Linked DNA regions of Homo sapiens. The protein of the gene in region 1 purifies or fractionates together with the protein of each later gene. This does not show direct contact. Each region holds a gene or a part of one and is shown on either strand. Other genes may lie near its edges. The genes, in order: AP1S3, AFTPH, SYNRG, AP1AR, HEATR5B and KIF13A.

The links.
Region 2: the proteins of AP1S3 (region 1) and AFTPH purify together in Homo sapiens (affinity purification with mass spectrometry; one large-scale study listed by BioGRID and IntAct). This does not show direct contact.
Region 3: the proteins of AP1S3 (region 1) and SYNRG purify together in Homo sapiens (affinity purification with mass spectrometry; one large-scale study listed by BioGRID and IntAct). This does not show direct contact.
Region 4: the proteins of AP1S3 (region 1) and AP1AR purify together in Homo sapiens (affinity purification with mass spectrometry; one large-scale study listed by BioGRID and IntAct). This does not show direct contact.
Region 5: the proteins of AP1S3 (region 1) and HEATR5B purify together in Homo sapiens (affinity purification with mass spectrometry; one large-scale study listed by BioGRID and IntAct). This does not show direct contact.
Region 6: the proteins of AP1S3 (region 1) and KIF13A purify together in Homo sapiens (affinity purification with mass spectrometry; one large-scale study listed by BioGRID and IntAct). This does not show direct contact.

The regions. Positions count from the first base shown.
Region 1 is NC_000002.12:223,827,085-223,832,050, reverse strand, and holds part of AP1S3 (AP-1 complex subunit sigma-3), read left to right. Parts: intron 1-4,966. UniProt on the Homo sapiens protein: Subunit of clathrin-associated adaptor protein complex 1 that plays a role in protein sorting in the late-Golgi/trans-Golgi network (TGN) and/or endosomes.
Region 2 is NC_000002.12:64,564,479-64,569,444, forward strand, and holds part of AFTPH (aftiphilin), read left to right. Parts: intron 1-1,371; exon of another isoform or gene 1,372-1,512; intron 1,513-3,083; coding exon 3,084-3,235; intron 3,236-4,613; coding exon 4,614-4,740; intron 4,741-4,966. UniProt on the Homo sapiens protein: Component of clathrin-coated vesicles.
Region 3 is NC_000017.11:37,535,909-37,540,874, forward strand, and holds part of SYNRG (synergin gamma), read right to left. Parts: intron 4,636-4,966; coding exon 4,472-4,635; intron 3,338-4,471; coding exon 3,284-3,337; intron 2,513-3,283; coding exon 2,416-2,512; intron 220-2,415; coding exon 71-219; intron 1-70. UniProt on the Homo sapiens protein: Plays a role in endocytosis and/or membrane trafficking at the trans-Golgi network (TGN). May act by linking the adapter protein complex AP-1 to other proteins. Component of clathrin-coated vesicles.
Region 4 is NC_000004.12:112,255,242-112,260,207, forward strand, and holds part of AP1AR (AP-1 complex-associated regulatory protein), read left to right. Parts: intron 1-2,530; coding exon 2,531-2,556; intron 2,557-3,091; exon of another isoform or gene 3,092-3,218; coding exon of another isoform or gene 3,219-3,238; intron 3,239-4,966. UniProt on the Homo sapiens protein: Necessary for adaptor protein complex 1 (AP-1)-dependent transport between the trans-Golgi network and endosomes. Regulates the membrane association of AP1G1/gamma1-adaptin, one of the subunits of the AP-1 adaptor complex.
Region 5 is NC_000002.12:36,979,552-36,983,995, forward strand, and holds the end of HEATR5B (HEAT repeat-containing protein 5B), read right to left. Parts: intron 2,244-4,444; coding exon 1,939-2,243; 3' UTR 1,344-1,938; downstream 1-1,343.
Region 6 is NC_000006.12:17,833,105-17,838,070, reverse strand, and holds part of KIF13A (kinesin-like protein KIF13A), read left to right. Parts: intron 1-487; coding exon 488-599; intron 600-980; coding exon 981-1,193; intron 1,194-3,999; coding exon 4,000-4,110; intron 4,111-4,966. UniProt on the Homo sapiens protein: Plus end-directed microtubule-dependent motor protein involved in intracellular transport and regulating various processes such as mannose-6-phosphate receptor (M6PR) transport to the plasma membrane, endosomal sorting during melanosome biogenesis and cytokinesis.

The DNA.
Region 1 (4,966 bases):
GGCTGGAGTGCAGTGGCACGATCTCTGCTCACTGCAAGCGCTGCCTCCCGGGTTCACGCCATTCTCCTGCCTCAGCCTCCTGAGTAGCTGGGACTACAGGCTCCCGCCACCATGCCCAGCTAATTTTTTTGTATTTTTAATGGAGATGGGGTTTCACCGTGTTAGCCAGGATGGTCTTGATCTCCTGACCTCGTGATCTGCCCGCCTCAGCCTCCCAAAGTGCTGGGATTACAGGCATGAGCCACCGTGCCCGGCCAACAGAACAAGTACTTCTTGATGTCTTCATGAATTGTCCTTTTGATATTGTTTTGTTGTTACGATAGCCAGTGTTTCTCCCAGAGACCTGAAACTTCACTGTGGTTCTGTGGTTCATTTCTTCCCTGGGGCCTGTCTTTTTCTCTCTCAGAGTCTCCCTTTCTGGTATACCTAGTTTTCCCCGATACTTTCTCTGTTTAACCTGAAGTATCCAGGAAAACTCCCTTTAAACCATTTGAAGCTCCCCCATAATCTATGACATGAAAGAATGTACACAAATGTCAGAGGCAAATGCTCCTAAATTCTCTCAGTGGCATATGAAACTATCCAGCCAGCACCCTGACTAAGGAAATGTATTTCTTGACCGGGCACGGTGGCTCACGCCTGTAATCTTAACACTTTGGGAGGCCAAGGTGTGTGGATTGCTTGAGTCTGGAAGTTCGAGACCAGCCCAGGCAACATGGCGAAACCCCATCTCTAGAAAAAATACAGAAAGTATTAGCTGGGCGTGGTAGTGCACCCATGTAGTCCCAGCTATTTGAGAGGCTGAGATGAGAGGATCACCTGAGCCCAGGAAGTCAAGGCTGCAGTGAGCCATGATTGTGCCACTGCACTCCAGCCTTGGTGACAGAGTGAGATCCTATCTCCAAAAGAGAAAGGGGCCAGGGTTGGAGGCTCATGCCAGCACTTTGGGAGGCTGAGGAGGGAGGATTGCTTGAGCCCAGGAGTTTGAGACCAGTGAGACTCAGTCTCTATTAAAAAGAAAAAAAAATGTATTTCTTGTATCGCTGCTAGCAATAAGGTAAATTAAAAATCTTAACAATGAAAAGGGGATACTGAAAATCATTCAAGTTAGAAATAGAATGTTATCGACAATCATGAGGAAACTGGCCTCTGCCAACATCCCTCTTCTAAAAACTTTCCTACAGGCATCTCTGGGCTCTGAAATTCCTGGCTCTCAGTAGCTTCTGAAACTTTAGTCTTTCAGTGCGATGGGGCATGGACCTAGTACAGTCAGTTAAGAATAAGTGCACAAGAGATTCTGTATTTAATGTCCTTGTTGGATCTTCTCTAACAGGATTTTCTGGGCTGGTAAGAAATGATTGGTGTGGGTTGAAGCTCAGTGGACACTGAAATGCTACAGGAGACTTCCTTCCACACTGGGTATATCAAAGATGAGGAATGAAGGCATGGTTTGCAAACTGGGGTGCCCATACCTTCTGCGTACTCATCCTTGTAGACAGGGGTTGTCAAGGGATAAATTTGACTCATCCCTGGAGTATTGTTCAGAATGATAATTTTTTTTTTTTTTTTTTTGAGAGAGAGTCTCACTCTGTCACCCAGGCTGGAGTGCAGTGGCGTAATCTCGGCTCACTGCAACCTCTGCCTCCCAGGTTCAAGCAATTCTCCTGCCTCAGTCTCCTGAGTAGCTGGGACTACAGGTGCATGCCAACACGCCCGGCTAATTTTTGTATTTTTGGTAGAGATAGGGTTTCACTATGTTGGCCAGGCTGGTCTTGAACTCCTGACCTCAAGTGATCTGCCTGCCTCGGCCTCCCAAAGTGCTAGGATTATAGGTGTGATCCACAGCGCCCAGCCGAGAAAATATTTTTGTATTAACACACTAATATATTTGGCTCCCGGATGCAAAATTCATACATACAAACCCTAAGACATATATTGTTTATGGCTTGCAGCTTAGGCTACCCTCCTGGTCTCATGAGGCCACCTGCCTTTCCTGCTGTTACAGTTATTTGGATAGAAAATTTGGAGAGACAATTTACTAAAGCAGGGGACAGTGAACTTTCTCCGTAAAAGGCCAGATAGTAAATATTTTAGGCTTTGTGGACCCTACAGTCTTTCAGTATTCCTCAACTCTTCTGTTGTAGAGTGAAAGTGCCACGGACAAGACACAAATGGATGGAGCTGTGTTTTTTTGTTTTTTTTTTGTTTTTTTTTGAGATGGAGTCTCACTCTGTTGCCCAGGCTGGAGCACAGTGGTGTGATCTCAGCTCACTGCAACCTCTGCCTCCTGGGTTCAAGTGATACTCCTGCCTCAGTCTCCCAAGTAGCTGGGATTACAGGTGCCCACCACCTTACCCAGCTAATTTTTAACTTTTTTTTGAGATGGAGTTTCATTCTTGTTGCCCAGGCTGGAGTGCAATGGTGTGATCTTGGCTTATCACAACCTCTGCTTCCTGGGTTCAAGTGATTCTCCTGCCTCAGCCTCCTGAGAGACAAGGTTTCTCCATGTTGGTCAGACTGGTCTCGAACTCCCGACCTCAAGTGATCTCCCCCGCCTTGGCCTCCCAAGCTAATTTTTGTATTTTTAGTAGAGATAGGGTTTTGCCACGTTGGCCAGGCTAGTCTTGAACTCCTGACCTCAGGTGATCCTCCCGCCTTGGTCTCCCAAAGTGTTGGGATTATAGACATGAGCCACTGTGCCTGGCTGGAGCTGTGTTTTAATAAAACTTTATTTACAACAACAGGCAGAAGGCCAGATTTGGCCTGTAAGTCATGGCTTATTGACCCATTTTCTAGGGCAGCTTCCACTAACTCATCATAGGTATATTGGACAAATAATTTGGATGCCTGCCCCATGACAGGCAGGACTGGCTACCTAATTTGCAGTGCCCAGTGCAAAATGAAAATGCAGGGTCCTGGCTGGGTGCAGTGGCTCATGCCTGTAATCCCAGCACTTTGGGAGGCCAAGGCTGGTGGATCACCACGTCAGGAGTTCAAGACCAGCTTGGCCAAGATGGTGAAGCCCCATCTGTACTAAAAATACAAAAACTAGCTGGGTGCAGTGGCAGGCGCCTGTAATCCCAGCTAGTCGGGAGGCTGAGAATCGCTTGAACCCGGAGGGTGGAGGTTGCAGTGAGCCGAGATCGCGCCACTGCACTCCAGCCTGGGTGACAGAGTGAGACTCAGTCTCAAAAAAATAAAATAAAAATAAAATGTAGGATCCCTTTTTCAAAGTTTACCAGGAATTTCAAGATAGTGACAGCAGAGCATTAAACCAAGTTTTGGGTCCTTCTGAATGCAGGGCTTCTCCATGTAATGACCCTGTGTCCACAGAAACCAGCCATGGGTCTGGGCCTCAGAGAGTGTGTTGAACAAGCCAGAAGCCACCTGCTTGCACGGAGCTCACATTCTTGGTGAGGAGTTCTCTCAACTCTGTAAATATTTTGGATCAATCACACAGGAGAAGAATTTGATATTAAGCATTCTTGAGTCATCTCAGTTTTATTTCCTGGGAAGTTGCAGGTGGGCCATGTGGGGACCCAGATGTGGCACATGGGGTAGGGGGCAGTGTTGGCCTTGACAAAAAATTAGCTGGGCATGGTGGTGCACGCCTATAACCCCGGTTACTCGGGAGGCTGAGGCAAGAGAATCGCTTGAGCCTGGGAGGCAGAGGTTGCAGTGAGCCGAGATTGTGCCACTGCACTCCAGCCTGGGCAACAGAGTGAGAGTCTGTCTCAAAAAAAAAAAAAAAAAAAGAGAGAGAGGAGAATGTGGTGAGGGGAATGACCCCAGGGCCCTGTGTGAGCGCTTTGATCTTAGATACTTGGTTCATCCCATTTCATGAGATCACCTGAGCGTGGAATAAGACTGCTTGGTTCAATCAGCACAGGGCCTGGCACCTGGAACATATTTCATAAATGCTAGCCAGGGCTATTTCTTTTTCTTTTCTTCTTCTTCTTTTTTTTTTTTTTTTTTTTTTTTTTTTTTTTTTTAGATGAAGTCTTGCTCTTGTACCCCAGGCTGGAGTGCAATGACACGATCTTGGCTCACTGCAACCTCTACCTCCTGGGTTCAAGCAATTCTCCTGCCTCAGCCTCCTGAGTAGCTGAGATTATAGGCACCTGCTACCACACCCAGCTAATTTTTGTATTTTAAGTAGGACGTGATTTCACCATGTTGGCCAGGCTGGTCCTGAACTCCTGACCTCAGGTGATCAGCCCGCCTTGGCCTCCCAAAGTGATGGGATTACAGTGCCCAGCCTAGCCAGGGCTATTTCTAAGAGAAATGGGAAAAGCTAATGAAAATACTTTAGATTTTTTTTTTTCCTCTGAGAAATTTATTTAAACTGATGAAATAAACAAAATCGGCCGGGCATAGTGGCTCATGCCTATAATCTCAGCACTTTGGGAGGGTGAGGTGGGTAGATCACTTGAGATCAGGAGTTCGAGACCAGCCAGGCCAACATGGTAAAGCCCCGTTTCTACTGAAAATAAAAAAAAATGTAGCTGGGTGTGGTGGCAAACCCCTGTAATCCCAGTTACTTCGGAGGTTGAGGCAGGAGAATAGCTTGAACCTAGGAGGTGGAGGTTGCAGTGAACTGAGATCGTGCCACTGCACTCCAACCTGGGCGACAAAGTGAGACTCTATCTCAAAACAAAACAAAATTATGGACTGCAGATATTGGGGAGGTAGGGGAAGGTAAGGGTTACAGTAATATCACATTTTTTTTTAAAGTATGATTCAGAAGTCTGTATAGAACTTTTTAATTTTGTTGTATAAACAAGTACTTACCTTCAGTTTCATTACTAAGAAGTCATGTCTTCAGTTCTAAGTCCACTACATAAGAGAGTCCCGCCTTTCAAAGTCCATTCCGTCTCACGATAATCTAGTCTACATCAACCATCTTTGCAAAAACTATGGGGGAAGGGCAAGACTTGAATATACAATAAGGCAGATTGGTCTCTCA
Region 2 (4,966 bases), about 160 Mb from region 1:
TGGTAGACGCCTATAATCCCAGTTACTTGGGAGGCTAAGGCAGCAGAATCGCTTGAACCTGAGAGGCCAAGGTTGCAGTGAGCCGAGATCGCACCACTGCACTCCAGCCTCGGTGACAGAGTAAGACTCCATCTCAAAAAAATAAAAAATAAAAAATAAAATAAATAAATGCAGAAACTGGAGTCTTGGCCCCTGGATCTATAGCCCTCTATTGAAGTGTTATTATACCAGTCATTTACTTACTGGAATTAACTAGTAGTAAGTTAAATTTGGCCTTATTTATTACCCAAAACAAGATAGTGGTGAGAAACTCATTACAGGATGCCCTTACCACCAAACTGGTCTTATGGAAATTGATACACTTTTTTTTTTTTTTTAAGACCAAGTCTTGCTCTGTCACCCAGGCTGGACTACAGTGGCATGATCTCAGCTCACTGCCACCTCCACCTCTCCTGGTTCAAGTGATTCTCATGCCTCAACCTCCTGAGTAGCTGGGACTACAGGCGTGCGCCACCATGCCCTGCTAATTTTTGTATTTTTAGTAGAGACGGGGTTTCACCATGTTGGCCAGGCTGGTTTCAAACTCCTGAGCTCAAGCAATCCACCCGCCTCGGCTTCCCAAAGTGCTGGGATTACAGGCGTGAGACACTGCACCTGGCTGGAAATTGATACACTTTTAAAAATAAAATGTCAGAGTAAATTTAATAAAAATATTTGGGCTGGGCGCAGTGGCTCACACCTGTAACCCCAGCACTTTGGGAGACCGAGGTGGGTGGATCACGAGGTCAGGAGATGGAGACCATCCTGGCTAACATGGTGAAACACCGTCTACTAAAAATACAAAAAATTAGCTGGGCGCGGTGGTGGGCACCTGTAGTCCCAGCTACTCGGGAGGCTGAGGCAGGAGAATGACGTGAACCTGGGAGGCAGAGCTTGCAGTGAGCCGAGATTGCACCACTAAACTCCAACCTGGGTGACAGAGCGAGACTCTATCTCAAAAAAAAAAAAAAAAAAAGCCTTTGTTCATTCTATTAGTTGCTGAATTGTTGAGGAGTTTCCCTCCCTGTGTTGGGCAATGCTGTTAGTGGATTCTGGTTATTTATTATTTACTGCTCTACCTCAAGGGGCAAACCATGACCCACAGGACAAATCTACTGCCTGTTTTTGTAAATAAGTTTCACTGGAACATACCCATGCTTATTCCTTTACATATGGCCTACAAGGCCTAACATATTTACTGTCTGGCTCTCTATAGAAAAGATTGCTAATCTCCTGCTCTATCTTATTCAACGTAAGATTTGAAGCAATCTAATGTAATATCTGATCCTAAACATATATGAAACTTTCTTTAGAAATTTCCATTCAACTTACATCCTTTTTTGCCTCAGCTTCATTCCACTCATTTGAGAATTTTACTGGTGTCTTGACACCTGGCAGTTATGTGTAACATTGCCCAAGTGGTTGGATGTGTTTTAGGGTCATTTCTTTCTTCCTGTGGTAAACATTTTTTTCCTATCCCATTAAAAAGATAACAAAGAGGATACAAGAAAGATTTAATTTACAGAGAAATAAAATTTGGCCATGTTAGTTTTTTGTTTACCTTCCCTGCCCAGGAGGAGCCAATCATGTATCCAATTAGGTGGTTATCTGATCCCTTTGAAAATAATGTCTGTCCGTTCTCTCTGTTGAGGCAAGTGAGAGCAAGGGCCCCTTGATGCACTCAAGTTTCACAGGCCTTGGGATCTTGAGGCTACCCTTTACTTAGGGTTCATAATTGATAGTGAGAACCTTTTCCAATATCACACACATGAATATAATTATGATGTGAGAATAACTTTTGTAGAATTACAAAAGAGTACCCTAAGACTAATTATGCAGTGTTAAGTTTTTGCTCTGATACAGCTTCCAAAAGAGATTTGGGTTCAGAAAATGTTATGAAATTTTTTTTTTTAATTTTCCTGGGTGCTCACTACACTACAAAACAGAAATCAAGCATCAACTTGTTTTTGTTACTTGGCAGGAAGTACCACCATGATGTGGCATTTTGCTTTTACAGTCTGTGTCAATTCAATAGTAAACTTAATCTTACAACAGGCTTTAACTTAATAACAATTTGTATTCCCAGTTGATGTTTAAATGGTAAATTGGGCTAAGTTGGAAAATATATTACATGTATCTGAAATAGTTAGGAAAATAGGAATGAATGTTATTGTAGGTTGCACATGTATAGTAAACCTAGTGGTACCAAAACTAAGTTGATCTAAATCCAGCAAGTTTTAGTTAATAAAAATACTTTAAAAAAAAAAAGCCAAGAAATGTATCTGTTTGTTCTTGGTGGAAATACTCTGGGGAATATGCAGGCTTTACTTGGGAGAGAGGTAGTGTAGTATTCTATTCAAAAATATACATGCAACAAAGACGAGTAGAGAAATGGAATTTCTAAAAGATAATGCATATCACCAAAATGATGAATGAGCTTTCGAATTTTTTATCAGTAAAAATTGAGACATTCTTTGCTACTTTGGTTTGTACTGTTAGCAGCAAAGATATTTCCAAAAGGCTATCAAAATTCATGTTTATGTTCAAAAAAAGATTGTTTAGCTATAATAGCATAATACTTCCCACAAGCATCCAATCTTATTGTTCCTAAATCTAGAGTAGATGAGTGGTAGTAAGAGACATTCCAGTGTGGTGGAAAGAATATAAATGCTCTCTGGGTTTTTTTGGTTTTGCTTTGGGCAGATTATTCAGACATTGAGATTGCTTTCTCACTGTACAATTGGGTAATTTCTTTTTTGTAGAATTTTGTAATAGATTAAGATAATGCATGTAAAGTAGCAGGTATATTGCTTGGCATGTTGCTTTTAATTGCCAGCTACGTAGCTCATCATCATCATTTAAATTAATCATTTAGAGTGATTGTTTCATGAGTAGTTGTGTTCTTTTCACTCAGTGTTTTCTGATGGTTCTCTTCCTCTCTCACAGTAGTGGACAGGGTGTGCGTGTGTTTGCATTTTAATGCTATAACTATGATATTATCAAAATTAAATGAAAATAAACTTTTGGGGGGTGTTTTGATGCAGACAGCTTTATTAAACCGCCTGGAGCGAATTTTCGAAGCATGTTTTCCTTCCATACTTGTCCCTGATGCTGAAGAGGAAGTTACTTCCCTGAAGCACTTGCTGGAAACAAGCACTTTGCCAATAAAAACGAGAGAGGCCTTACCTGAAAGTGGGTAAGTAGGAGACTGTTTTTAGATAGCATGTGTTTTTGTTATTTTTAGTAGTTCTAATTTATAAGTTTATCTTAAAACATTAAGGTTCAGGCCAGGCGCAGTGGATCACCTGAGGTCAGGAGTTTGAGACCAGCCTAGCCAACATGGTGAAACCCTGTCTCTACTAAAAATACAGAAAATTAGCAGGGTATGGTGGCACATGCCTGTAATCCCAGCTACTTGGGATTGAGGTTGAGGCACAAGAATCGCTGGAACCCAGAAGACGGAGGTTGCAGTGAGCCAAGATCACTGCACTCCAGCCTCAGTGACAGAACAAGGCTCTATCTCCAAAAAAAAAAAAATTAAGGCTCAAAAACATTGTGTCAAAACCTAAACTCCCTGCCTTTTTACTTTTGAGCTATTTCTTTTTATATTTCTAAATCAATAATCAGTTGATGTTATATATTATTTTTTGACTTCTTAGAATGAAAACTGAAAATTTAGATTTTACCTCTGCTATTCTCCTCCCCTCATCTTCCCCATATATCAGTTTTTGGTTAATTTCTTATTTGGCATTTTCATTATTATAATCACGTATGTATTGTTGACTCAAGCCACTGTTTTCTTTATAGTACAACTTCTTCCTGGACTTCTCTTTTTCATTAATGTTTCCCTACCCTTTAAGAGCTTGTTCATACACTTGTGATCCAACACCTTATCATTCTGCTCCCATCTAGAATGGTTTCAGTCTGGGCTTACACATACATTGCCTCGGGACTTCCCTTCACTTAGATCCCATTTTGGTGGAGCATATCCTCCAATAGCCTTCTGAGAAAAAAGGTAGATGGGAGGCAAATTTTTACTCTACTCTCACATTCAATTTATAGTTTAAGATCTGTTTGTTGCTGATATTCTGAAATTTCACAGTGAAATACCTTTTTTTCTTTGAGACAGTCTCGCTCTGTTGCCCAGGCTGGAGTGATCTCAGCTCACTGCAACCTCTGCCTCCTGGGTTCAAGCAGTTCTCCTGCCTCAGCCTCCCGAGTAGCTGGGATTACAGGCACCCAGCACCATGCCTGGCTAATTTTTTGTATTTTTTAGTAGAGATGGGGTTTCACCATGTTGGCCAGGCTGGTCTAGAACTGCTGACCTCAGGTGATCCGCCTGCCTCGGCCTCCCAAATTGCTGGGATTACAGGCGTGAGCCACCGCACCCAGCCTTAGTTATTTTTCTAGTGACTATAAGTATTGGCTCTTGATTTCATTCAAATAGTTATACACTTACGTTGGACCCAAGAGTAAATGGAATGTGTGTTATGTCACAGCCATATTATAAGTAGAACTCATGGTGAAAGTTATTGAGTAACCTGTTGTTGATGGCTTCATCATGGCCTTTGCAGGGAATTGCTAGATGTGTGGACTGAGCTACAGGATATCCATGATGCACATGGCTTGAGATACCAGTGGGGCGGCTCCCATAGCAACAAGAAGCTTTTGTCCTCCTTGGGAATAGACACCCGAAACATTGTGAGTTTGTTAGTACCTTGAAAAATCTTTTAATCAACCTGTGGATGTTTTAAAATTCTGTCATACTTCTGTTTAAGCTGTGGTAAGCTAGTTCCTCAGAAAATAAATATTTGGTTTAAATGTTCACTTATATTGAATGTGCTGACTTTTAAACATCAGTCTACCTAAATTTTTCTCTAATCAATACTTATTTTTAGAAAAAATTGTTTTAGTAGTTTTTCTTAAA
Region 3 (4,966 bases), on another chromosome or scaffold:
ATATACACTCTGCTTTACAACTTAGGTTTCTGGAAAGGAAAGCAACTGCTGAGTTGTCTCATGGGCTTACTGTGAGTGTGGCGAGTGACATGAAGCCGATTAGGTTATTCCATACTTTATCGATGTCCTTCAGCAACTGCTGGAGTTTCTCACTGCACACTGCAGTGGCTTTTATCCCCAGCTCCACACGCTTGGTTACCCTGTACACTTCAACAACACCTGACGGGATGAGAGAGCAGAGAGAGAGTGTTGGCAGTGGAGACACAGAGGACCCAGACAGGGGAGCATTATTGCTTGCTGATATCTGTGAGAAACAATGGGTGTATCTGGACAGAGGTGTACTTACTATTCTTTGGGACCAATCCACTTCTCAATGCTGCTGTATAGCTTACTGGTAAGAGCATAGAAGCTGCACTGCTTGGGTTCAAACCCCAGCTATGCCTCTTACTGGCTACATGACCTTAGGCAAGTCACATAATCTCTCTGTACCTCAGTTTCCTCATCTGTGAAGTTGGGATGGTAACAGTAGCTCCTCCAAGGATGGTTGAGAGGATTAAATAGGGTAATATGGTAAAAGGCTTACAACAGTGCTTGGAGAATGGCAGGCACTATGCAAGTTATTAGCTTTTGTTTTTTGGGAGGTTTATTTATGAGTCCATCTGTTTGAATCTGGGAAATCCCAATAAACTAGCTGAAAATGGGGATAGTAAAAATTTAAAAGAATCTAAATGTTAATAGCATCACAAAGTAATGAAGAAACATCTCACCCCTCTGAATCTGAAGGTCTTACAAACACTTTGACTTCACTTATCTTTAAACACATAACAGGATGCAGAACAGTTCTTTTCCTATGGTCTCTAAATTGTGGTTGAACTCTTGAAGCAAGGATGAGAGGTGCTAAGTACCTCCACATTCTAAGGACAGCCACCAGACACATCCCTAACCCCTGCAATGTAACAGTCACCAAAGACATGACCCCGATCTCTCTAAGTGAACACTGGAGGAATTCCAGGGGATCTTCAGAGCGGGGCCTCAGCAGCCCTGTGTCAGCACTACGGCTTTTCTTCTTCCTTTCCCAAGAGAGGGGCAGAAATTACTGCCCACCCTAAGCCAAGTGAGGGGGCTTCTAAGAGAATCTTCCATAGATACAAGGATACTAGGAGAAAAGACAGGTGCCCCATTTCCTGGTGGACATCTGCTTATGCAGAACTGTGCCTGTTTGAGCAGGAAAAGAAGACCCCAAGTGAGGTGGCAGGAGTAAGGCAGAGACTACATCCCTTCACTCTCCACTCATCCAGCAAATATTTTTGAGTGCCAACTACGTGCAAGACACTAGATTAGGTGTTGGGGACACACCAGTGAACAAAACAGACCAAAATCCTTGCCTTCTTGGAGGTTCATTCTAGTGAAGGGAGACAGAGAGTAAAAACAACAAGTAGCTAGGTGCAGTGGCTCACGCCTGTGATCCCAGCACTTCGGGAGGCCAAGGTGGGTGGGTCGCTTGAGCTCAGGAGTTCGAGACCAGCCTGGGCAACATGGCGGAAACCTGTCTCTACAAAAACTACAAAAATTAGCTGGGTGCATGGTGGTGCACACCTGTGGTTCCAGCTACTTGGGAGGCTGAGGTGGGATGATTGCTTGCGCCTGGGAGGTGGACGCTGCAGTGAGTCATGACTACATCACTACACTCCAACCTGGGTGACAGAGTGTGAACCTGTCTTAAAAAAGAAAAGAAAAGAAAAGAATAATAAGTAACATATGTAAGAAATTAAAGGTAATAGGGCTAAGGAGAAAATCCAGCAGAGAATGGGATGGGAAGTACCGGGGTAGGGAGAGACGATACTCTTTGGAGAGATGGATGCTAGGAAAGATTTCACTCAGAAGCTGACATTTGAGTAAAGATTTGAAAAAGATTAGGGTCCAGCATGTGTGGCTCTGGCCACGGGCCAAGCCTGAGCTTGGGGAAGGGAGGAACACCGAAGTGGACAGAGACTACACTTTCCCGTTGGACTGACACATCAAATTGCTGCAGATGGCCAGGAGGTTAAGGACTCTGTGGTGTCATTAAGCGGTCGAGAGAAAGAATATAGAGTATGGTAAGGAATTGATGGGAGACAAGATGATTTTACTTTAGTGCATCGGTAGTTCAGATTCTTTGATAAACCAGTAACACAGATATAATTTTACATTTTTGCTATTACGTATATAACAAGGATGAGGAAACTTAGCCATAGAGACTTTTTAATTAAGTCCAATAGTTTACTGCCTGTAGCTTGAGTGTCTTACCCACAAATACAGATGCTTCTTACTGAAGTCATATGTAACTTGAGAGATCTAGCTTAAAATAATTAAAGGGAAAACTGAAAATAATGCAAAGGGCCATCATTTTCAATAGTAAAATATGAAAGAACATACCTAATAAATATTCCATGCCTTGAGCTGACTGAATTACTTCTGTGCAAACAGAACTACTACTGATTCCATTTAAGGTATCATTTGCCTTCTTAATGACCTACAAGAAATGAAATCACATCACCTTACATAACTGAGAAAAGTCATTGCAAATCAATTTACTATTAGTAGAAAACCCAACCGAAAAGCCAGGAGGTGTCAAAAAATCTCATTTTATCCTTGAAGAAACAATCCTCCATTTCTCTGGAAGAGAAAATATGTTTTTTTCCTTTTGTTTTGTTTTGCTTTGTTTTGAGACGGAGTCTCGCTCTGTAGCACAGGTTGGAGTGCAGTGGCAAGATCTCGGCTCACTGAACCCCTGACTCCCGGGTTCAAGTGATTCTCCTGCCTCAGTTTCCTGAGTAGCTGAGATTACAGGCACGTGCCACCACGCCTGGCTAATTTTTGCATTTTTAGTAGAGACAGGGTTTCACCATGTTGGTCAGGCTGGTCTCAAACTCCTGACCTCGTGATCCGCCCGCCTTGGCCTCCCAAAGTGCTGGGATTATAGGTGTTGAGCCACCGCACCCAGCCAAGACAGGTTCTTTAGCTTAAATATTATTTTGATTTAGTCAGAGTTAATGAAATCACTTTGTTATTTCTTAAACACAATGACAGATGAGGGGATGACTGACACATGAGCCGGTCTGCTATTGTAAGTGTGAAAGAAGCCTCACCTTAGATGCATGACTTCCACAGAGTTACTCTTTGCCCAGGGACATCCAAGTAAGGCTCTCCTGAAGTTTGCCTCTGTCAATTCAAATGAACCAAGAAGGCAAAAAGGCACAAAAGAGCACTCACATATGTGTGAACGCGTAAGTGACATACTCACATTCAGGGCACTCCCCAGGCATCTCTGCCATTCATATGCATATCTCTCATTTTCCTGTGAATTTGTTAAAAAGAACTGGGTTAAACACACAAACCTGGAATCTTCTATTGATGACTCTGTCAATTCAAAGTGCTTGGAGGACTTTCCTTTTTATTACGATCACTCTAGTTCAAGCAGTTTATGTTTTTTTTGTTTTTGTTTTTGTTTTGAGATAGGGTCTTGCTCTGTTGCCCAGGCTGAAGTGCAGTGGCATGATTTCTGCTCACTGCACTGGACGCAAGCAATCCTCCCACCTCAGCCTCCAGAGCAGCTGGGACTACAGGCACGCACCACCACATGAGGCTAATTTTTGTATTTTTGGTAGAGGTGGGGTTTCACCATGTTGCTCAGGCTTGTCTTGAACTCCTGAGCTCGAGTGATCTGCCCGACTTGGCCTTCCAAAGTGCTGAGATTACAGGCATGAGCCACCATGCCCAGCCGCAGTTTATCTTTTTGAACTCACTAATAACTATGTTAAATTACTAATAAATGTAACTTCTGAGCACAGGACCTGTGAGTCTAAGGGACATGCTTTCCAGCAGCTTCCCCCTGTGAGTGTTGCCTCATTTGTTCCATCAGTAACAGTGTAAGCCTTTCTTCGGAGGCACTCAGCATGTAGCTATCTGGTACAGAAACTGCTATTAAGCCACTGGCTTTCCACGCCCCAGTTATAACGCTGTGTGGCTGTGTGTGAGGACGTGGCCCATGTGCACATGTAACAAGGAGTAGGGAAAGGTGGGAAATTAAGTGTGTTGACCATAGGAGGAACATAGCGTGGCACTAAGATGCAGCAGACAGAAATAAAAAATTCAGAATATTTTCCCTGTCTCCTCTATTTTGAGGTTTCATGAAGACAATAAAGTCTAAGTGCTCAAGAAGAATTATACAAACACTGCCATCCTTGTGAAGTCCCATGAATAGTTTTGGTTTTAGGGTCACTGATTAGTTTCAGTGGGTGCCACACCTGGGAAATGTTTTCACCCAGGGCTAATGTTACCCTTGCCTCACTTTAATTACATAGTTTATGTCTGGTGCTTTGTGTCTTTCTGCCCCTCATTTTCCCCATGTGAAAGCTGACAGCATTCTTTCTTGGGGCCCTGTGTGCTTGCTGGTCTGTTACCCACCCCTTGTAGAAAGCTCTCCTCTCACCTCCACCTCTCCCGTCAGGTCTTTGTACTTGTCTCGGATGACGGGCAGGGCGGGCTTCTCATTCAGAGTATTGGAACGGTCTCTGAAAGGCTGCTCCAAAGCTGGAGAAGGAGAAGAACGGCTTATTTCTTTATCACCAAGGCTCAAACTCCTCTTGTGTGATCCTGGGAGAAGGGGATAATACAGTCAAAGGTTTTGGCTACTCACCTTAGTTCAGGCAGAGGCTCTTCCTCGCTACCACAACCCTCTTCTTTTTTTTTTTTTTTTTTTTTTGAGACAGATTCTTGCTCTGTCGCTCAGACTGGAGTACGGTGGTGTGATCTCGGCTCAGTGCAACCTCCGCCTCCTGGGTTCAAGCAATTCTCCTGCCTCAGCCTCCTGAGTAGCTGGGACTACAGGTGCACACCATCATGCCTGGCTAATTTTTGTATTTTTAGTAGATACACGGTTTCATTGTGTTGGCCAGGCTGGTCTCGAACTCCTGATCTCAAGTTA
Region 4 (4,966 bases), on another chromosome or scaffold:
AGCCACCGCGCCCAGCCAATTCCGAATTTTTTTACTATCTAAGATACACTATATACACACACAGGATTTAAAGCGTTATACAGAAACCCAAGGAACTTCAGAAAGTTGTATTTCTAATATTTCTAACCTCTTGCCATTAAGTAGGTAAAATACCTAACAATCCAGAGTAGACCCATTGCTTTTTGTTGTTGTTGCCGTTGTTTTCTTTTTAAGAGACAAGATCTCGCTATGTTGCCCAGGCTGGACTTAAACTCCTCGGCTTGAGCAGTCCTCCTGCCTCAGCTGAGTAGCTGGGACCATCGGTGTGTACCACTTCACCCAGCTTTGGAGTAGGCCTATTCTTTATAGTTTTCATAGATTCTGATGTCAGATTTTCTACATGTTTATTCTACAGTTTCTGACTTTAGCCATCATCTCTTTTATCTTTTCTTTATGTTGATTTTCTACATTTCATCTCATACAACTCAGCAAGTTTTAAGATGCTTCTCAAATACAGAAGTGTTAAAAATGAGAAGGGAGTGCATTTTAGAATCAGCAAATTGTGTATATTTCAACATTTGATCTTAGTCAAAAGGCTAAGAAGCATTTCTTATGCATTCGTATAGTTAGAACTTTAGTTTGTATGCTAATTTGCAACTTCACTAAATTAATTGTGTACGTTTCTGCAAATTACTTAACCTCCCTGGGTCTACTTTCTACATCTTTAAAATTGGTTCGACTAGAAGAACACTGAAAGTTGACACTGTCGTTTTTGTTTTCTAGGGAAAGAAGAAAATGTATTAATCTTTTCCTTTAAAAATGTATTCTTTAGTCCAGCCTTTCTCAGAGTATGTATAGAATACTAGTCTCAGAGTGTAAATTAGCATGTAAAAGATTGAGATAAACTATTGTTAAACTGAATTATTTAAACTTGTTCAACTCAGCTCTTCTTAAATTAACGTGGGTAAAAATCCTTTTTTAAAATAATAATACATATTTTTCATCTGATAGGACACATTTTGGAAACTATTTTAGCCGTTTGTTCTCCCAGTAAAATATCATTCCATTTCATAGAACTTACTTCTTTCCCTTCGCAGAGGTCACTTTTGTCTTCATGTCTTTCTCTTAAAAAGTTTAAGCAAACACTGGACATGATATTTTTAAAGCATCTGACAAGTGTTAAAAGTAAGCCTTCTTTCAGCCTCCAGTAGAATTCATCCCAGCATCGTAACACTTTTCAAGAGAACTCGTGATTCCATGGATTTTCCTAAGATGCTTTTTGTTTGGTTGGCTGAGGATTTTTTAATTTTTGTTTTTGCTAACCCCTCTTCTCCTCTCTAATTTACTTCATATTTTGTGTTTGGTTTAGTTGAATGTCATCCTGTTTTGTAGTGCTACTTTCTAAACTAATGTGGACCATTTGGAATTTTATTCCTGCTATTATATTTTAACTTTCAGTTATGAATAGTTTAAATGTGTAAGAAATAGGCATAAACCTGAATAAATCCTGAAAATAGTTATGCTTTGCTTTGGAGGAAAAAACTACAGATAATTTCATAACCTTGTGAAAGAAAACAAAAAGTTGATTCTCATTATTGTATTTAAGTTGCTGTAAATGCTAAATTAGTGAATGCTGAAGCATTACTGCAGGGGAAATACAAGGTTAGGTTCCTGCAAGCCTCTGATCACAATATGTTCATCAACCAATCAGTATATAGCCTCATTCAATGTGCGTTTCTGTGTAAGACACTGTATTAAACACATATTATTGATTCATTAACTTTGAACTCACAGCCAATAGCACAAACTCATGCTTGTATGAAGCTTACCTAACACACATATTTTCCCCATAACACACATCATAGCTTTCTTGGACTTTAGGAACACTGGAATACTTAGAGGTCATTTTAAACAGAAATCACCAGCAAAAAAGCACAAAAATGCAAACAGTGTGGCATTAAATAGACTGTAAAAAGGATACTTGTTTATAGCATGAGAGCTGAAACAAGAAAGCGGAGTGTCTGTCGCCCTGTTCTACCTCATCTGGGAATGTGCATTGCTGAGCAACTCAAAATTTTTACTGCTCCATGCCTGTCCTTGAATGACCAAGAGAGCTCAAATATTGATTTTGTGGTTACAAGTAAATTTTCCAAGTAGGCAAATTTGCAAATATAGAAACTGCAAAAAAATGAGGATCAACTGTTAATATAAATGAGAACATAGAGAATATGTTGTCTCATACCATACTGACCACAGTTCATTTGGTATGTAACAAATATTTGTTAAAAAAAATTAAGAAATGTCCAGCAAATGGTTTTATGTAATTAAGCTAGATAGTAAACTAAATTTTGCTTTGGAGAAGTAGCAAAATTTTAAAGCTTTTTGTTTCAAATATTTTTAATAGTGAAATATATTTAATAGTGAAATGTATTTACTCTGATAAAAAATGGGTAAGTTGAAAGTATTTAGATTAAATAAAAATTGTATTGGTTACTTTAAATAGAATTTAGCTAATGAATTTGTTTTAATTGTTTAATTAATTTTTGTACAGGGGGAGAGCCCAGGAAGCAGTCATAGGTAAGGCTTTGTTAAAAAAAAAAAACAAAACTTCTATGCAAACTGTAAGAAAACTCTCTTAAGAAGTCAGGCTTTATCATTTGCTTGCTTTGAGACATTAAACAGTTTACATTTCAGAACTTTCAGATTTTTCTTTTTATAAGATTGAGACAAATATCATATATCTCAAAAGACTGTTTTGAATATTAAAGAATTTAATGTAAGTGCCCAGATGCTTTCCTGTTGTACCTGTTATATGTTTTTTAGTTTTCTTAAAACCATTTAATACTGATAAGTACGTTTCTTTTAAATTTTTTAACTTTATTGCCCCTTTCTTTCCTTATGCATTCTAAAACTTATTCTACTAAATTTTTTCACATCTTTTAATAGTAACTAAAACCTTATGCTATAATTATTTAAGCAGCTTTTAAATATTTTATTAAAATTGCATGTGTTACTTGAAGTATCTTTAAGTCAAAAGAGCATTCTTAATTTCAAGAGAATAGTTTTCATATACAATGTTATATTATGAACAAATAATCCTTACTTTTTTTAGTTTAGCAAACATTTATTAAGCAACTGTCGTGTGCCAAGCACCGTGCTAGACACTGGGATTTTAAAAATCAGACATAGTCTCTCCATTAGAAGAAAGAACATCCTGGTCTGGGAGATAGATTCTCGAGATGACTAATTTCAATATGAGGTAGGGAAAGCAATTAAATAGTGATTATAGAACATTCTAGGGAACCTTAGAGAAGAGGCTGTTTGCCCAAAACAAAATCCAAGAAGACATTTTTAAGGGGATAACACCTGGTGTTGATTGTTGAAAGGTTGGTTAATGCTAACTATCCAGGCAGAGCAGGAGGACATTAGAAATTTCATAAGCAAAGTGAGAGAATTGATTGTAAAGGGGCACAAGGAAAGTATGTGAGGTGATGGAAGTGTTATGTATCTTGCTTCCAGTGGAAGTTACATGAGTGTATACAATTATCAAAACAACTTTATGAACTGAACACTTAAAATCTATATTTCATTTTATTTAAGTTATACTTCAAAGAAAAAATTTTAAAGCCCTAATATATAACTAGGGCTAGCAGAAGTTAGAGCTGAAGGGACAGAAGTAGGAGATAATACCTATAAATGGCTAGTTAACCATGATAGTTACCAAGATCACCTAACTGAGGTGGGGGTTTGGGGAGAGGTGGAGCATGGTGAGAGAGCAAGGATCTGAGGATTGACTAGGCGGACACTAGAAGAGGATTCTGAAGATGACCAAGAAGTAGTAGGCAAAAAGAAGAACCAGGAGAGCTTGGGAAGCCGAGGGAGGGGAGACAGACAGACAGATGGGAATGGTTAACACTGTCCCATGAAACTGAGGTAGTAAGATAAGGACTTAAAATTGTGTATTGTATTTGGCAACATAGAAGCCATTGATTACCTTTGCTAGAGTTATTGGAGTTATGGGAGCAGAGGTAGACTGCAGCGAGTTGACAAGTGAATGGGAGGTAAGGACATGAAGGCAAGAGAAGAACAGTAGTTAAGAACAAGAGCTACACTACCTGGGGTTCAGATTCTGGCTTTGCCACATACTATATGACTTACTTAGCCATACTCTTAATCTGTCTTCGTTTCACTTCCCTCATATGTATAATCCTTATATCTACCTTAGAGGGTTGTTGTGAGGATTACAATTTGCTAATATATGTGAAGCATTGAGAAGAGAGCCAGGCACATAGTAAGTGCTAGGTATGCTGACTATTGATATTATACATTTAATTTCAGGACTTGGCTGAAAAAAAGAGGGAGCAGTAGCTTGAGATAGATACAGGTCAAATGGAGGTTTTTTCCTTAGTTTCTTCTTTCTTCCTTCCTTCCTTCACATGGAAGAGAGGTGCAAACAGACAAAAGGAATAGGTTAAAGGTAAAAGAGAGGTACTAATTGATAGAACAAGGTCCCAGAGAATTGCCTGGAGTGGGGCAGGAGAGATGGGCTCAATGGTGAGTGAGTCAAGAGTGTAAATGTAGTAGGTGACTCTGAACAAGTTAAGAACATTCCTCTTTAGAGGATGGTGAGGAGAATAGGAAGGATATATGTAAGTAAGTGGGGGTTGCCACAAAGTTGGGGCGATTCATGGTTGATACTCCTCATTTCTTAAAGTGGAGTGAAATTGCCTTTTAAGATAAAAAAAAGTATGAATAAGGAACTTGAGTATGTGAAGATTTTTAATTTGGTAGTGTAGGATATGTGAAGGAATTGCCACATATATATAAAAGGACTACTGCTGGGGTCCGAGTGCCAAATTGATGTCAGGTTTTCTCTAGCAGCCTGAAACAGGAAGGGCTGAACATGGAAATGACCCAGGGTCAGAATGTGAGTAAACCAAGTGAATATGGAATAATGATAGGAGTGTAAGAAGGTGAGTATGTTGGT
Region 5 (4,444 bases), about 190 Mb from region 1:
AACTCCTGGGCTCAAGCAATTCTCCTGTCTCAGCCTCCTGAGTAGCTGGGACTACAGGAGTGCACCACTGCGTCTGGCTAATTTTCTTTTTGTTTAACGTAGAGATGAGGACTTGCTGTGTTGCCCAGGCTGCCTCAAACTCCTGGCCTCAGCCTCCCAAAGTGTTGGGATTACAGGTGTGAGCCACCATGCCCAAACTGAATTGAGTTGTATGGTATGTGAACTGGATCTCCATGAAGTTGTTAGCGAAAACAAAAACAAAAACCAAGGAGAATAATTGTGGCAATGCAAACCTGAAATGAAAAAACAACCAGCGCCAAGTGTGGTGGCTCACGCCTGTAATCCCAGCACTTTGGCAGGCTGAGGTGGGAGGATCATTCAAGCCTGGGTGATTGAGGCTGCAGTGAGCCGTGGTCATGTGCCACTGCACTCCAGCCTGGGCAAAAGTGAGACCCTGCTTCAAAACAAAACAAAACAAAACAAAAATGAAAAGAAGCTGGGCATGGTGGCTCACGCCTGTAATCCCAGCACTTTGGGAGACAGAGGCAGGCAGATCACCTGAGGTCAGGAGTTCGAGACCAGCCTGACCAACATGAAGCCCCGTCTCTACTAAAAATACAAATTAGCTGGGTGTGGTGGCGGGTGCCTGTAATGTCAGCTATTCAGGAGGCTGAGGCAGGAGAATTGCTTGAACCCAGGAGGCGGAGGTTGCAGTGAGCCAAGACCGCGCGACTGCACTCTAGCCTGGGCGCGACAGAGAGAGACTCCATCTAAAAAAAAAAGAAAAGAAAAAAGAAAAGAAAAAAACACCCAAAAGTCAGTGAGAAAACAGGCAAGACAAAGTACCTATCTCAGGTATCTAAAAGGCTGAGTGGAGTTCAAGTGTAGTGAGCTATGATTGCACTCCAGTCTGGGCAACAGTGCAAGACTCTGTCTCTAAAAGAAAAAGGAAAAGAAAGGAAAAGAGAAAAGAAGATAAATGTTCAGAAAGTGACTTGCTTTTGATAATACTTGTTCAGTCTGTTACACTGTGCGGTAAAACTTGGTGTTTAAAATTTGCTAAATGCTGTGGCAAACATTCATTGTGTGAATTATCTATTTCGTACGGTAAAATGCCCACTACATGAAAGAATGGCATCACTGTAATTATGCCTAATTCATTTTTGTATCCCCTGCAGCACTTAGCTTGATGCCTTATACACAGTAGGCATTCAATAAATATTTGATGAAGGAAACTAACCATCATAGCCAGAACTTGAGGTTCTGTAATTACAAAACATAACTGAAGCCAAATTTTAGCCATTAAAAAAAGCAGAATATTATATTACATTTAAACATTTTAGTGAACCTTTAAATGAGAATTTTAATTGTTACCAACTAAAATATACATAGCATAATTTAGTAATTTGATATGAAAGCTAAAAGATCCATCAGAAAGATAAGGACATTTTGGGAAATGCTTAGAAAATGCTGTGATTTTATTCATAGTATATACACCACAAAACAGACACTTTCCATTATTTTGATTACTTCAAAATTTAAAATCTGCTTGTTTTTCAATTGATTTTTTTCATGACAGATGCTGAGTTCTGACCCATTTTTTTCCCCTGACAGTATCAATAGGCTGCCCGACTACATGATACAATTGTTTTTAGCATTTAAATTTAAGACTATGGCTCAGTGTTTGAAAAATAAATAAGTTAACAAAAGAGAAACATTATTAGGAGGAAAATGAAAACATATTCACCACATGATAAAAAAAATCACTCCTTAAAAATCAATAAGTGGTGTGAGCATTATTTCACTTAACCTACTTGGAAGCACTATAATACCAATATACAAATAAAACAGAACCCATAGGTAGCCTGGAATGATACAGTGGCCATCACTAATTAGGGGCTAGTTGACAACATAAATACAAATAAATGAAATTACAAATTAAAAAAAACTTGTTTTTAGCTTAATTGTTGGTGCAGAATGTATGGCGGGGGCTGGTTGTCTGGCAGCCGCTTTAGCTTTGCTCGCTTGGCTTGCTCGAACGGCAGTTTCTAGACGCACTTTCAACTCAGGAGCAGCCCCCATTACTGTCTTGAAAGCATGTGGATACAGAGGTCCAATATGCATTAAATTCTGGAGTGCAAACTCATGAAGATCTTTGGAAGCTGAACTTGCTGAGGCAAAAGAATTTTCATCCAGCAGGTAAGATATCAAAGTGGGAACTAAAAGAGCAAGTAGCTGGACTCCTGTAAATAATAAAGTATGAAAAAAGATCACAAACATAAGGATTATAATAAACTTTAAAAACTAGGCAATTGCCATGGAAGACTGAACATAATAAAATATAAGTACACATGCACAGCCTACTTTAGACCTCAATAACTCGTAATTAATATTAAATATTTACTAAATGTACAAGCTGGAAACCAGGTTTGTTAATATTGTATATTTTACATTTATATTAATTTGCTTTACTTAAAAAAAAAAAAGGGCCAAAGGTTAAAAAGTAATAAAACACTTTACAATTGCCACCTGGTAGAATGTATCTTGAGAGTAAGATTATAAAATTTTTACGGGCATTCTAGAATCAGGAGATTGGAGTGAGGAACAGAAACCTGAAAAGCATCTATTTACCATTATTTAACTAACACTAGTTGTTTCTTTCCTCTTTAAGTAGAAATACAATACAACTTTTTTCCTATTTCATCATCCCCCAAAACTCACAGTGAGGGGAAATTCCTCAAAACTAAGGGAATACATAAGCTTAGGGTTAAAAAAACAAGAACCTATGTCCGACTGATATAAATTCCAAGTCCTTAAAAAAGTATTTATTTGGAGGCTTCATCTCCTTTTGTTAGTCTTTTGTCTTTACTTATATTAACAACTCCATCCTGGGATATAAGTTTCATTAAAGGTGATTTTTTTTAACAATTAACCTTTATATGTAATTGTGTGTGTGTATAACATCTCATAATCACATTGAGAATTACGCGTTCTCCCCCTTAATTACTGTTAATTTTTGTAGAATGACAACTGACGCAATTGTAAGGCAGGAGGAAGCATCTGGTAGAGAATGTGTGACACTCACTGATGTCAGCAAGGACAGTGATAATAATCAGTGAAGCCTTTCCAGAATCCCAGTTCCACCCTGGACCTTACTCCCTATTTTCTTTCCCTGCTGTATTTTTTTCTTCACAGCTCCTATCAATTCCTGCATCTAACTATAGATGTTATATCTACATCTAAAATTGATATATCCATCATCACTATATAAAATTGCACAAAGATACATGTCTACATATAACAGACACAGATACACACACACACACACACACACACACACACACACACACACACACACACGTATAGGGGACGAGAAGTGTTTATTGTCTGTGTTTTCCTACCAGAAATGTAAGCTCCATGAGATCAGGGACCTTTGCCTGTTTTATTTCACGAGAAATTCTCAATGCCTAGAACACTACCTGGTACACAGCCATCCAGTAACTATGCTTTGAATGAATAAACATACATACTCTTTCTCTTGGCAACTACCCAGAAGTTTCCAATTAAATGGATTTGTTTCCATATTAAGTTTTCAGAAAAGAGGTAAAAAGCTTATTTTTAAAGTCCCAGGTAAATCCTCCAATCTTCTAGATTTAGTTCAATTTCCCTCATGTACAATGTTAATAGTATTATAGGGGTAGGCGCGGTGGGCTCATGCCTGTAATCCTAGCACTTTGGGAGGCCAAGGTGGGCGGATCCCCTGGTCAGGAGTTTGAGACCAGCCTAACCAACATGGAGAAACCCTATCTCTACTAAAAATACAAAAAAAAAAAAAAAATTAGCCGGGCATGGTGGCGCATGCCTGTAATCCCAGCTACTAGGGAGACTGAGGCAGGAGAATCGCTTGAATCTGGAAGGCGGAGGTTGTGGTGAGCCGAGATCGTGCCATTGCACTCCAGCCTGGGCAACAAGAGCGAAACTCTGTCTCAAAAAACAAAACAAAACAAAACAAAAAAACCCAAAAATATTAGCTGGGTGTGGTGGCACATGCCTGTAATCCCAGCTACTCTGGAGGCTGAGGCAGGAGAATCGCTTGAACCTGGGAGGCAGAGGTCTCAGCGAGCAGAGATCGTGCCATTGCACTCCAGCATGGGCGACAAAGCGAGACTCCCTTTCAAAAAAAAAAGTTAATAGTATTATAAAAGCTGGCTTTCATAATAAAAATAAAGTAGAGAATTATAAAATATATATAAAATTATCTTCAGTATATTGGCTTGCTAAATTGGAAGAGGTTTCAATAGTAGGTTTTCAACAGTAGGTTGAAAATTAAGGTTTTGGTTTTAACAATTTTAAAATATAACTGGAGGCCGGACGCAGTGGCTCATGCCTGTAATCTCAGCACTTTGGGAGGCTGAGGCGGGTGGATCACCTGAGGCCAGGAGTT
Region 6 (4,966 bases), on another chromosome or scaffold:
TGCTGGGATTACAGGTGTGAGCCACCACTCCCAGCTGCATTTAACTTTTTAAACCATTTACAAAGCACTTTCTTTTTATGATATTTTGGTTTTTTGGGGTTTCTTTGTTTTTGTTTTTTTGAAAGAGTCTCACTCTGTCGCCCAGGCTGCAGTGCAGTGGCACAGTCTCGGCTCACTGCAACCTCTAACTCCCGGGTTCCAGAGATTCTCCTGCTTCAGCCTCCCAAGTAGCTGGGATTACAGGCACCTGCCACCACGCCCAGCTAATTTTTTGTATTTTTAGTAGAGACAGAGTTTCACCATGTTGGCCAGGGTGGTCTCAAACCCCTGGCCTCAAGTGATTCATCCACCTTGGCCTCCCAAAGTGCTGGGATTACGGGCGTGAGCCACCAACGTGTATTAACTGTGGAGCTTTATTGTTCTGCATATTTTATACTTAAACCAAATAAACATTCCATAAAACTAATTTTTCATTTTTTCTTGACAGATCGCTTACAACCTTGGGGTTGGTTATATCATCACTGGCTGACCAGGCAGCTGGCAAGGGTAAAAGCAAATTTGTGCCTTATCGAGATTCAGTCCTCACTTGGCTGCTTAAGGTAATCCATTGCTCTAGTGTTCTTTTCCAACTAAAAATTGGCTATTCCAGATGTGACAGAGTAAAGGTGTGTACAAAGCTAACCAAATACCTAAAGAACTCTCCTGATGACAGTTATTCTAATTCCTAGGAACACAGAATGAAAACTATTTTCTACTCCTTTTTATTCCATTTGAATGCTGTTTGACAGGCCTTATTCATTGCTTGAATATAGAGAGGACACATTTCATCTTGTCATGACGTTATTTGTGAAATGCAAGTCCATTTCCACATAATGTTTCCTTCATAGAGAATAATGTCATACCTAACACATTTAGTGCTTTTATCATATGTGTTGTCCATGGAATGGGCTTCCTAAGATGCTGTTTGAAATACTTGGCAGGACAACTTGGGGGGCAACAGCCAAACCTCTATGATAGCCACAATCAGCCCAGCCGCAGACAACTATGAAGAGACCCTCTCCACATTAAGATATGCAGACCGAGCCAAAAGGATTGTGAACCATGCTGTTGTGAATGAGGACCCCAACGCAAAAGTGATCCGAGAACTGCGGGAGGAAGTCGAGAAACTGAGAGAGCAGCTCTCTCAGGCAGAGGTAAAAGCAGCCTGGTACTCCCTGCTGGTAAAGTTCCCTGGCTTGCGGGATTTGACTGGCAAGGGTGTGCTCATTTGCAATTGTAGGTCATCTGATATGGTTTCGATTTATGTCTCTACCCAAATCTCATGTTGAATTGTAATCACCAGTGTTGGAGGAGTGGCCTGGTAGGAGGTGATTGGATCATGGGGGCGAACTTCCCCCTTGCTGTTCTCGTGATAGTGAGTTCTCATACAGCCTGTGGAACCATGAGCCAATTAAACCCCCTTTTCTTTATAAATTACCCAATCTCAGGTATTTCTTTATAGCAATGTGAGAACTGACTAATACATCATCTCAATGTGGTTCAGCACTTCAGTGTTTATTGGCATCTGCCAAATGCTAAGCATTGTGAGGACCAACATGAGTAATACCATACTCTGTCCTAGGAACTTATAGTCATGGAAACAAACAAATAAGAGATAATTCCTGCTACTACCTGATCATTTGCTTCCCTAAATCAGTTGGCCTTTGAACTTTCAGTGGGAAAGTATGTTGTTTATATTAACATTATAAACTATTATTTCCACAGGGCCTTGCAATTTTCAGAGAATTTAGTTAGGTGTTATCTCCTTGTTAAGCTGTGGAAACGGCGTGATCAAAGATAATTAAACATTAGGAATAATTCAGAAATCTTTTTCTTTTCCATTTATATCAGGCCCTGACAAGAAACAAAATCTTTTTGCATTGTTATCTTCTTTCTTTGGCTTTACTGAAACTTTAATAATGATATACTCTTCTAAATAGGTGTTGCTTTTTGCAAATTATTGGGTGAGGCACTGTCTTATTTGAAATATTTAAGAGGACAGCTTTGGAGGCCAAGTGCCTTAGTTTAAGTCACAGGGTTCCACATGCCAGGACTTGGGAGTGTATCTGACACTTCTAAGTTCACATTCCTTCACCACTCTCTTCTGACCCCACTGTAGTTGGGAGAGTACTAAGTTGTAAGAAAAAAAGAAAGAAAGAAAAACACAGTTAATGGCCATTATTTATGGAGCATTTACATGCCAGGCACTATGTTAATACTTCTATCCATCAGCATATTTTATCAAAAAGTAATCAATAGAAGACTGAAAAAACAAAAAGGTGAAGCCAAGAGTCTGAATACTCTATTAATTGGTGATCTTGGCATTACATTGTAATTGTTTGTTTATATATCTTTCTCTTCTTCCAGGCTGTGGCTCTTAAAGTACAAGATGCTGTGTTTTATTGATTTTTTTATCCCCAACCCCTAGCCTAACATTGATACTAGAAAGCACTTACCACAATACCTTGCACATAGTAAGTTCTCAATAAATGTTGCTGATTTTTATTATAATTTATAATCATTCAGTGCATAAAGTATAATTTTCAGATAGATTGTAAGAAGGGTAGCAAAACACCAGAAAAATAAAAATGCTGATAAACCTTGAAAATAGTCATGATGCTAGGAGGAAAGTATAATGGTTCTGCAATGTGTTTATAGGTGGATTATCTACTTATTTGCATTTTTACTGTGACCACATAATCTGGGCGAGATGGCTCAAGCAATACCTGGCTGAAGGAAACAGAAGAAGAGCCAGCCACATAGGTCCACCTAGAATTTTCTTTTTCTGTTTCTTTTTTTTTTTTTTTTTTTTTTTTTTTTTTTTTTTTTTTTTTTTGGCGGGGGCGGGTGGACAGAGTCTCTCTGTTGCCCGGGCTGGAGTGCAGTGGCACCATCTTGGCTCACTGCAACCTCTGTCTCCTGGGTTCAAGTGATTCTTTTGCCTCAGCCTCCCAAGTAGCTAGGATTACAGACAGGCATGCGCCATTATACCCAGTGAATTTTTTTTGTATTTTTAGTAGAGACAGGGTTTCGCCATGTTAGCCAGGCTGGTCTCAAGTGATTCACCCACCTCAGCCTCCCAAACTGTTGGGGTTACAGGCAGGAGCCATTGGCCTGGCCTATAATTTTCATATATGTCCCACTGTACTCAGCACTAAATGCCACTGTCAGGCTCTGTTAATACCATGAGCCTCAGGCATACTCAGCTAGCTTCCAGATCATCACATCCCAGCTTCTTGTCCAAGCTCTGCCATCTTTCTTGTTCATAGAGTTTTAACTTTGTAGAGGCTCATGTTACTTTAAGGTGTCAAAGCATATTATTGACAAGTAAAGGCCTCTCCCCTCAAAATTTTGTTAAGCTGCAAGTATCTGTATTGAAACCTCTTAGTTACTCTCCCTGAACAAACTAGAAGGGAAACCACTGCCTTTTTAGCCAGCTGTGCTGCTTCTGGGTGAATGATAATGATAAATAACAAAATGCATGACCATCAGTGGAGAAAGGTAGTCTAAAGGCCCAGATTCAAAATTTAAAATACATGAGAAGTCTTTACCTTTTCTAGCAGATTAATTTAACTGGAATTCATTTATTGATGATGAGTGTTAACCTCCGTCTTATTGAAAAAGAAGTCTGCTTAAGTAACCTTTTGTCCTGCTTATCTATTTCAAAGTTGAACGTTAGCATCTTTTAGGGCTTTAAATGTGAAATTTAAGTATAATGGATAAAATGACTAATGATTTGTTTCATTTTCATTCAGGACACTGGTATTTCTTTTTCAGGGAACAGCCATGTTCTCTTACATTCGTTTGATTAATAAAGGTTAAAAACCCACCCTAACAGCATATAACTTAATTTTTTCCAACAGACTATTGATAACTGCTTAAGAGGGACAGTAACTGATTGTCTTGTATATGATGGTGGAAAAATTTTGAACATCAGATATCTCTGATTTCATTTTAAAGGCCATGAAGGCCCCTGAACTGAAGGAGAAGCTCGAAGAGTCTGAAAAGCTGATAAAAGAACTAACAGTGACTTGGGAAGAGAAGCTGAGAAAAACAGAAGAGATAGCACAGGTAGCTTGATAATTTAGCCCTAAAATATTGGGATTCTTTTTCACTTATTGTCTTTTCTGTGTAGTTTGCTGTCATCTTCAGAAAGTCTTTTTTTTTTTTTTTTTTGAGACGGAGTCTCACTCTGTCGCCCAGGCTGGGGTGCAGTGGCGTGATCTCGACTCACTGCAACCTCCACCTCCCGGGCTCAAGCAGTTCGCATGCCGTAGCCTCCCGAGTAGCTGGGATTACAGGTGCCTACTACCATGCCTGGCTAATTTTTATATTTTTAGTAGAGATGGGGTTTCACCATGTTGGCCAGGCTGGTCTCAAACTCCTGACCTCAGGTGATCTGCCAGCCGCAGCCTCCCAAAGTGCTGGGATTACAGGCATGAGCCACTGCACCCAGCCTCAGAAAGTCTTTTAAGGGCCCTTTTCTGCTGAACCAGAGATTGCAAAGATCACTTTTTTTTTTTTTTTTTTTTTTGAAGACAAGGTCTCCCTCTGTCACCCAGGCTGGAGTACAGCAGCTCAATCACAGCTCTCTTGCAGCCTCAACATCCTGGGCTCAAGTGATTCTCCTCCCTCAGTCCCCCCAAGTAGCTGGGACCACAGGCATGTGCTACCATGCCCAGCTAATTTTATCTATTTTGTGTAGAGCTGTGGTCTTATTTTGTTGCCCGGGCTGGTCTCAAACTCTGAGCTCAAGTGATTCTTCTGCCTCAGCTTCCCAGAGTGCTGGGGTTACAGGCATGAGCCACTGTGCCTCGCCCAGCAAAGATCACTTTTAGACATTGACGTCAGGTCTTTTTATCAATGTACAGTTTGGCCTGTATATTTGCTAGACGTGTTAGATAGCACTAAATTTGAACAAGCATGG